Regions from separate parts of the Homo sapiens genome. Here all the other regions are linked to region 2. Evidence: fine-mapped expression QTL. A gene starts in region 2. Each other region holds a variant in brackets. All regions are shown on one strand. Distances are between the middles of the regions. Region 1 holds the start of MIR6763 (microRNA 6763). Region 2 holds the start of FBRSL1 (fibrosin like 1). Region 3 overlaps FBRSL1 (fibrosin like 1).

Region 1 (2,500 bases), 92 kb after region 2:
CTACACCTGGCTAATTTTTGTATTTTTAGTAGAGACATGGTTTCACCATGTTGGCCAGGCTGGTCTCAAACTCCTGACCTCAGATGATCCTCCTGCCTCGGCCTCCCAAAGTGCTGGGATTACAGGCGTGAGCCACTGCGCCCGGCCAATTTCACCAGTATTTTTAAAGGAGCAGCTCTGACCTCGCTGCCTTCTCTGTGTGTTTCCCTGTGTGTCGCTCACTTTTCTGGCCCTGTCTAGCTTGATCTGGTGGTTGAGAATATTAATTCCTCAGCCTCTCCCAGTGCGGGCATTTGAGGCAGTGTACTCTCCATCTCCTCCTGCACACGCTTTGACAAGCTGTGTTTTCGTAGCATGGGGCAGGCTGTCTTCCTCTCTAGTTTAGAAGAGTGGCATCAGCTTTCATGCCACAGCTCAGTGGAGACCAGAAGCTCTGAATACAACTTGCCGCGTCCTACATGGGAGGCATGAGCACCCCATCTTTGAGGTCCCTAAGATTAGGGCTGGGAGGGAGTCGGAGTAACCTAAAGATGACGCCCTGCTGGTCTTTACCAGAAACCTGCTCTCTGGACCCATGTGGAGGACGGCCCCTGACCAACAGCACTGAATCCCCTGCAGCAGCCCCTCCCAGGGCCCGGGCCCAGGCCCCACACGGTTGCTCTCCAAGGGTTGTTGGGGGGCCAGGGCTGATGTTGACGTGGTGCTGTGGGCTGGGCCTGTGCCCAGGAATGCCACAAGGGGCTGCCATGTGCAGCCTCCAAGACAGAACCGTGTCCATCCAGGCCTGAGGCCCAGCACCACATTAAGAAGTGAGGACCATCTATCAGCTCCCAGGTGAAAGCTCTGAGATAAAGGCTTCAGGAGTGGTCCGATCAAGGTGCATGTTACTTGGACTTTGTCTCTGCCCAAGTTGCAGCCCCTTTGCTCCGAGGGTTGCATCGCACTCAGCACCTCCCTCCCTGCCCCCCTTGGGGTCCCAGGATGGCTGCCACTGCGGCTCCAAGTCAA[ACCT/A]CCTCCGAATTGTGGGGTAGATTCCACCTCTTACTCTGACTGGACACGCTTCACCCCTCAGGGCATGCGAGAGAATGGGAGGTGAAGGTTCACAGAGGAAATTGGGGTGCTCCCTGTGAACAGAGCTGCAGATGGGAGGCCCTGGTGCTCTCTCCTGGCTTCTGTCAAACCTGGCTGCCCCCCCCAGGTGCCGCCCATCCTGCCTCCAACCCATTTGGACCCTCAGCCCATCCTGGCAGCTTCCTGCCCACTGGCCCCCTGACAGGTGGGTGTCTCTGAATTCAGCCCACGCAGCCTGGCTGGTTCCTCAGCAGCCTTGTGGCGGGGGAATTAGGTGGGCGGGAAGGTGGCCCCGAGCCCCAGGGAGCCCCTTGGGTCATGCAGGCAGTACCCACCAGGCCCAAAGCCTCTACAGCAGCCCCCACTGGGCCAGGTGGGAGCCGCAGCCCACGCCTCACAGACCTCTGGGTCCCGCGGTTGCCCCCACAGACCCTTTCAGCAGACCGAGCACCTTTGGGGGCCTGGGCAGCCTGAGCAGCCACGCCTTTGGGGGCCTGGGCAGCCATGCACTGGGTGAGTGACCCAGCCTGTGCCCCCCTCCCCCGATGCCCGCGCCCCTCCCCCATGCCTGTGTCCTCTGCAGGAACCCCGATGCCTGGCTGACCTCCCTCCTCTCTGGGCTGGGCCTCCTTGGGGCACCCCCTTCTCAGTGTCAGCCTGGGACCCTTCTAAAACCCCTACCGGGTTCTCCTGGGGAGTGGCTGGGGAGCAGACAGACCCAACCTCATGCTCCCCGGCCTCTGCCCCCAGCTCCCGGTGGCAGCATCTTTGCCCCCAAGGAGGGCTCCTCCGTGCACGGCCTGCCCAGCCCCCATGAGGCCTGGAACCGACTGCACCGGGCACCGCCCTCCTTCCCGGCTCCGCCCCCGTGGCCCAAGTCCGTGGACGCGGAGCGGGTGTCAGCCCTGACCAACCATGACCGAGAGCCGGACAATGGCAAGGAGGAGCAGGAACGGTGAGTGGCCCTCTTGTTCCGTATCCCCACCACACACCCCTACCCCGTTCTTTCCCCCCTCCCGTCATCCCCGGTTCCCCCTCCCCCGTTCCCTCTTCTCCCCGTTTCCTCTCCCTCACCGTTCCCCCTCCCCCTGTTCCCCTTCCCCGTTCCCCCTCCCCCATTCCCTCTCACCCTCCTCGCCCCACTGCTGCGCACTCACAGTCTGTCCAGCTCTGCTGAGCCCCGGGGTACGGGGGCCAAAGCTCTGCTCCCCGGCGACTCCTCCCTGCGGTGGGGAGTGAAGCCTGGGCCCTGGGGCTAGGAAGGATGAGGAGGGTGAAGACCCCACCACAGGCACCCACACCTGCCATCCGGGAGACCTCCAGGTGGCCGCGCCCTGACCCACGGAGTTTGAGGGAGGAGTTCGGGGGTGCGGCTGCCGGGAGGCCCCCCTGTCCTAACAGGGAGGGGCCCGTGGGGAGCCGAAGTCGC
Region 2 (2,830 bases):
CTTTTAAAAATCAAAAGGGAGGATGCTGGAGGGTGAAACCACGGTTTAACAAAACCCGGAATGGGAAGAGGGGGAGGGGGACCCTGCCCCCACCCTGGGGAGGCTTTGACAGGGAACCAGAGAGCGGGCTGGGTGGACTGGAGGAGGCTGGGTGAACAGGAAGTCCCCCCACCCCAGTGAGCTACTTTCCCAACTGCCTCAGCCCAGCAAACAGCCAGTGGTGCCTGGACCACACCCTTCCTGCCCTGCACAAGAGGCCGCCAGTAGGCTCTCCCAGAGGCAGGGTAAAGTGGACCCCGCAGAGTGGGCGAGGACCCGTTCCCACTAAGGGCAACCGAGGGCAGGGTCCCACCACTGTCTTGGGCACCCTCCCCTCCGCCCTCCAGCAAACCACCATTCTTCTCCGAGGGCCTGTGCAGGGGTGTAGCCCCGACCTGAAACAGGGTGCCCATGACTGCTGGGGCTCGGAGTCGTCACTCCTCGGGGAGGCCCTCTGGACCACCCAATGCCCACTCTCTGTGACACCTCCCCGTTCGATTTTCTTCAGATTATCCTTGGCTGATATTCTATTTGGCCCTGTGTTCAGGGTCTCTCTCCCACTTCTAAGAGGGTAGTCTATCTCAGCCGCTGCGGGGTCACCAACAGAGCCTGGACACAGGAGGCATCTGGCAAATACGCGCTGCATGAATCAATGACTCCAGTGCCCACGCGCAAGGGGCCCCTGGGCTCAGAAAACCCCACCAGGCGGGCCCCTCCGAGCTCGGCCTGTCCTGGGGGTGGAGGAGGAAGTTCGCCCCGCGCCTGCCTCGCAACCGCAGCCGCCTCCGTGCGCTTCCTGCCCGCGCCGCCCTCCACACTGCGCTCCGTGTCTGGCAGCAGCCCCCGCCTCGCTGGGCGCGTTCCCGGGGGTCTCGGTGGCGGGAGCCGCCTTCTTGTGGGACTTGGGGGCACGTGGCGCGGGGCGGGGACGCGGACAGACCCCTCCCGCATCCTAGGAGGCCTGGGAGGGTCCGCGGGGACGCGGGGAGGGGGCACCGCCTGGCCGAGGACCCTCCCCCGGTCCTCCCCGCCCCTTCCCCGTCCCTTCCACGCTCGCCGAGGGCAGGACTTCGGTTCCGCGAGACCGGAGGCCCCTCGTCCTCCTCGGAAGCCGCCCGCGGCCGGGGACCCCAGTCCCGCAGAGGAGGGCGGCGCTGCCCCCGCCTCCCGCTTGGAGAGCGCCGCCCGCAGGTGCCCACGGAGGGGCCGCGGCATCCCAGCGCCCTCCCAGGAAGGAGCCGAGCGGATCACCGCCGGCTGCAGCGGAGGTCGGGGCGCCGGGGAGGGGCGCGGCTAGGGGGCGAGGTCGAAGGGCGGGCACCTGCGGGTGGGGCGGGGCCTGAATTAGCGGGAGCGCCCGGGAGGGGCGGGGCCGGGGCCTGCGTGAGCGGGTCGGGGAGGGGGCGGAGCCTGCGGGGGGCGGGGCCTGCGTGAATGGGGCGGGGAGGGGCCGGAGCCTTGTGAGCGGGGCGGGCCGCGTGTGCGGGGTGGGGGCGGAGCCTTATGAGCGGGGCGGGGCAGGGGCGTGGTCGGGGCGGGGCGCGCGGGCGCCCGCGGCGGCCCTCACTTCCTCTGGCGAGCGCAGCCGGGCGGAAGTGCGTCAGTTGTTATCTGTTCGGGGCGCCGCCGCCGCCTCACGAGCCCGGTGCCCAGGAGCCCGGCCGCCTCCCGCCTGCCGCCTGCCGCGCCCGCCCGGCCCCGCCCGCTCGGCCCGATCGCCGCGCCGCGCGCATGGGGCGCGCCCCCGGGGGGGCGGCCGAGGGCCGCTGAGCGCCGGGCCCGCCCCCGCCGATGCGCCCAGCCGCCCGCGCCGGGGGTCCCAGGCCGCGCCGGGCCCGGGGCTGAGCCGCCCCCCGCGCCCGGCATGCCCGGCCCGGCCCGCCGCCCGCCGCCGCCCAGGGCCCGAGCCCGCGCGGCGCACACTCAGCCCGGCGGCGCCGCGTAGCCGAGGGAGCCCGCCTGCTGCGAGCCAGGCGCGGGGCGTCAAGGTCACCGGCCCGACGGGGCGCACGCGCGGCCATGGAGGCCAAGGTCCGCCCGAGCCGGCGCTCGCGCGCGCAGCGGGACCGTGGCCGGCGCCGGGAGGCCGCCCGCGACGCCCGCGCCCAGAGTCCGTCGTCGGGCGACGAGCCCGAGCCCAGCCCCGGCAAGGAGAACGCGGGCCTCCGCGGCGCGCCCCCCCGAGGCGCCGCCCCCGCGCCCCGCACCGCGCGTCCCCCGCGCCGCCGCCGCCGCGAGTCCAGCTCGCAGGAGGAGGAGGTCATCGACGGCTTCGCCATCGCCAGCTTCAGCACCCTGGAGGCCCTGGAGGTAGGTGGACGGGTGCGGCTTCGCAGGCGTTGAGGCGAGAACGGGGCCCGGAGTTGACGCGTCGGGCGATCCCGGGACCCCTGGGCTTGCGACCGCCCGCGCCGTGGGCAGCCCTGAGGGAAGCCCCGGCCACTTGGTACCCGTTCCAGGGACCCTGGGTGCCCACCGCTCGCCCAGACCGTCGCATCTGGAAGACCCAGCAGCGTCGGGTGGGTTTGGGGACGTTTTAAGTTGCAGAGGCAAAAAAATCTACGCTTCGAAATTGGGGGCTGTCTGACAGCACCGTCGGCCTTTTATCAGTTGTGTTTCTGTGGCCAGCATATCGCTCTGCCTGGTTCAGGACGTGCTAGGGAGCAGTGCTGGATCTTAGGGAGGTGGTGATAAAATGGATACTCCGCGGGCCATCCCGTTCCCTCCTCCCTTCGAGGGCTCTGCTGAGAAGGGGAGAAGGAGGGTTAATCTCAAGACCCCTCTTGGTGAC
Region 3 (2,500 bases), 79 kb after region 2:
CCAGAGTGGAACCGTTAGGAATGTGTGCTCTCAGGCCCTCCCCAGGTTCGTGGGGTCAGATGCTCGGTACTGAAGGGCCACCTGCCACGAGCACCACAATCACCTGTGGCTGCTGAGTTAAAGAGAAACGGGACTGAGACTCACTTCCCTGGCTCTGCTGCCTGCGCGCCTCTGTGGTGCAGTGGAGGGGCCTGGATTGCTGTTCCAGGCCAGGCCTTCGAAACCTGTGGCTGTGAGCTATGGGACAGGGTGTCTACAGGCCAGCAACCCTCTCCAGAGGGGGTAGCCCCGGCGTCTTAGGGGCCTTCGTAACCTGTGGCTGTGAGCTGTGGGGCGGGGTGTCCACGGGCCAGCAACCCTCTCCAGAGGGGATAGCCCCAGCGTCTTCTTAGGGCCTCCCTGGCGCTGGGATCCTGGGATTCCCACACCAAGGCCTAGGCGGGCAGCATCTCCGGCAGGGCCACGGGGTCTCGGCTCCTGCCTCCCTGGGTTTCCAGCTGGAACCACCCTTTTGCTGGGACGGCTTCATCCGGATGTGATTGGACAGGACAGGCCCTGCCAATGCCGGCAAGGATGGGCCCTACTGCCCTTCAGCAGGCATGGCCTTCACCTGCCTTCAAGTTGGAAGCCTGTTCACATCAGAGCATCACAGCAAAGCAGGCGCAGATGGGGTGGTGTCAGAAGGGGCGTGCATGGGACGGGCCCCGGTAGGAGAGGCAGCTGGCTTCGCAGACGGTGTCACGCGGGGCTGCTGAATACTCAGCTCACTGCCGCGGCTGCTGCCGCATCTGGACGGACAATGTCCCAGTGAGGGCTGGAGGTGCTAGAAGGGCACAGGAGGCCCCGCACGTGGGGTCTAGTCCAGGTCTGTGCGGCCCAAGCCTCTTTCCATCCTGATCACAGCTCTTACTATATGCAAGGCTGGCTTGGAGATGTGGGAGAGAGGAGGAGAGGTCCCGTGGGGCTGACCCAGGGAGCTGGGAAAGCCGGTGGAGATAGTGCCCGTGGGCTCCCTCTCTCCTGTGTCCTCCGCGCAGCCTCTCTGTGGTCGCTGGGTGGTGGCTGCTGTGGAAGGCCTGGCCCCAGGTGAAGAGTGAAGATGGGGCTGCTTCCTGCTGCCTGTTTTCACCTGGGAGGAACTCCTTGAGGCCCCAGAAGACCAGGCCCCATGGTCACATGGGGCAGGGACGGCCGCAGCTGTCCCCATGGGCCATGGCTCACTGTCCCAAGGCCTCAGGAAGGAAGCAGGGTCTGCCGGGGACGTGAACAGGAGGCATGCGGCACGTGGAACGTTGTTTTGTTTCTCCTGCGAAACTGGCCCCCTGACCGTGGCAGCTCCTGACCCCAGGCAACAGGAGCTCCACCACATGGACGCTGCCCTCTCCTGACTCCTGGGGACTTGATCTGAGACCTGCCC[G/C]AAGGGGCCTGAAAAGGAGGGTTTGGGGTGTGCGGGGGTGGGGGGGGCAGGCCCCAGGGGCTCAGAGGGGCCCACAGGACCTGCGGGGGACGTGCCTAGGTGGGCAGAAGGGTGGCCAGGGAGCAGGGCTGAGGGTGGCGGGTGACGGGCAGTCACAGTAGGGGGAAGCCTCCCACCCAGTCCCTGCCCAAGTTTCCAGGAAGTGGTCAAGCCTTCCACCAGGGGGTTCCAGAAAGAAAAGGTGGTTACAGCTGTGGGCGCTGCTGTTGGGGTGGGGCAGACCCATGCCCTGGGCTGAGGGCACATCCAGGGGCCGTGAACATGAGGCCTAGGTACACAGGCCCTAGCTCCCGTGTTCAAATCCAGCTCCCCTCTTGGGCCAAGTCCTTGATGTATCTTGGTTTTGTCTGTTAAATGAGGTCATAGCAGCCCCTGTCCAGGGACTGACTCTTGCAGGGCCTGTCCTGTCCCTGCCAGTGATGCGTCTTCGGGCAGGTGGGCTACCCACCCCCACCCCTGGCCACGGCCCAGGCTCCCAAGCCAGCTCCCTCCGCCGGGCGGGGCCTGGAGCCTCGGGTGAGATCCAGCTAGCTGTGTGGCCTCCGTGCCTGCCTCCTCATCTGAAATGGGGGCATAGCCGGAGCCCAGACATAGCCTGGGCACCGGGCACGTACCAGGGCTCCCTGGGCCACAGGAGGGGCAGGGACGAGGCCCTGCTGGTCTGAACGCAGCCACCCTCTCTCTGCAGGCCCAGCGCTTGAGAAGTCGGAGGCCAAGGCCGGGCCGGTGCCCAAGGTGTCAGGCCTGGAGCGCAGCCGCGAGCTCAGCGCCGAGAGCTTCCTGCCCACTGCCAGCCCCGCGCCCCATGCCGCGCCCTGCCCGGGGCCCCCGCCCGGCTCCCGCGCCAATCCCTTGGTGAAGAAGGAACCCCCCGCCCCGCACCGCCACACCCCGCAGCCGCCACCCCCGCAGCCCCGCGGCCTGCTCCCGACACACGTGCCTGCATCCCTGGGCGCCTTCGCGGGCCACAGCCAGGCGGCAGCCAACGGCCTGCACGGCCTCAGGTGGGGTCCCCGCGGGGGA

What was found. PIP is the estimated chance that this variant, and not a neighbour inherited with it, causes the effect. A credible set is the group of variants that fine-mapping cannot tell apart.
Region 1: its variant is the best candidate, but not a certain one, in a credible set for the expression of FBRSL1 in whole blood (INTERVAL, PIP 0.58).
Region 3: its variant is the best candidate, but not a certain one, in a credible set for the expression of FBRSL1 in whole blood (TOPMed, PIP 0.76).

Annotation. Positions count from the first base shown.
Region 1 is chr12:132,580,241-132,582,740 of GRCh38, forward strand. FBRSL1 (fibrosin like 1) reads left to right here. Exons shown (of 19, transcript NM_001367871.1): 16 at 1,199-1,276; 17 at 1,501-1,584; 18 at 1,822-2,026. It overlaps MIR6763 (microRNA 6763), which reads left to right and starts at 1,757; the gene lies at 1,757-1,821. The variant ACCT/A (reference allele first, on the strand shown) is at 1,009.
Region 2 is chr12:132,488,513-132,491,342 of GRCh38, forward strand. It overlaps FBRSL1 (fibrosin like 1), which reads left to right and starts at 1,639. Exons shown (of 19, transcript NM_001367871.1): 1 at 1,639-2,349. The coding sequence starts at 2,059. RefSeq lists enhancers at 600-729, 2,727-2,830 and silencers at 920-989, 1,120-1,569.
Region 3 is chr12:132,567,761-132,570,260 of GRCh38, forward strand. FBRSL1 (fibrosin like 1) reads left to right here. Exons shown (of 19, transcript NM_001367871.1): 7 at 2,166-2,481. Among named protein-coding and RNA genes, the nearest start is that of MIR6763, 13 kb to the right of the region's middle. The variant G/C (reference allele first, on the strand shown) is at 1,418.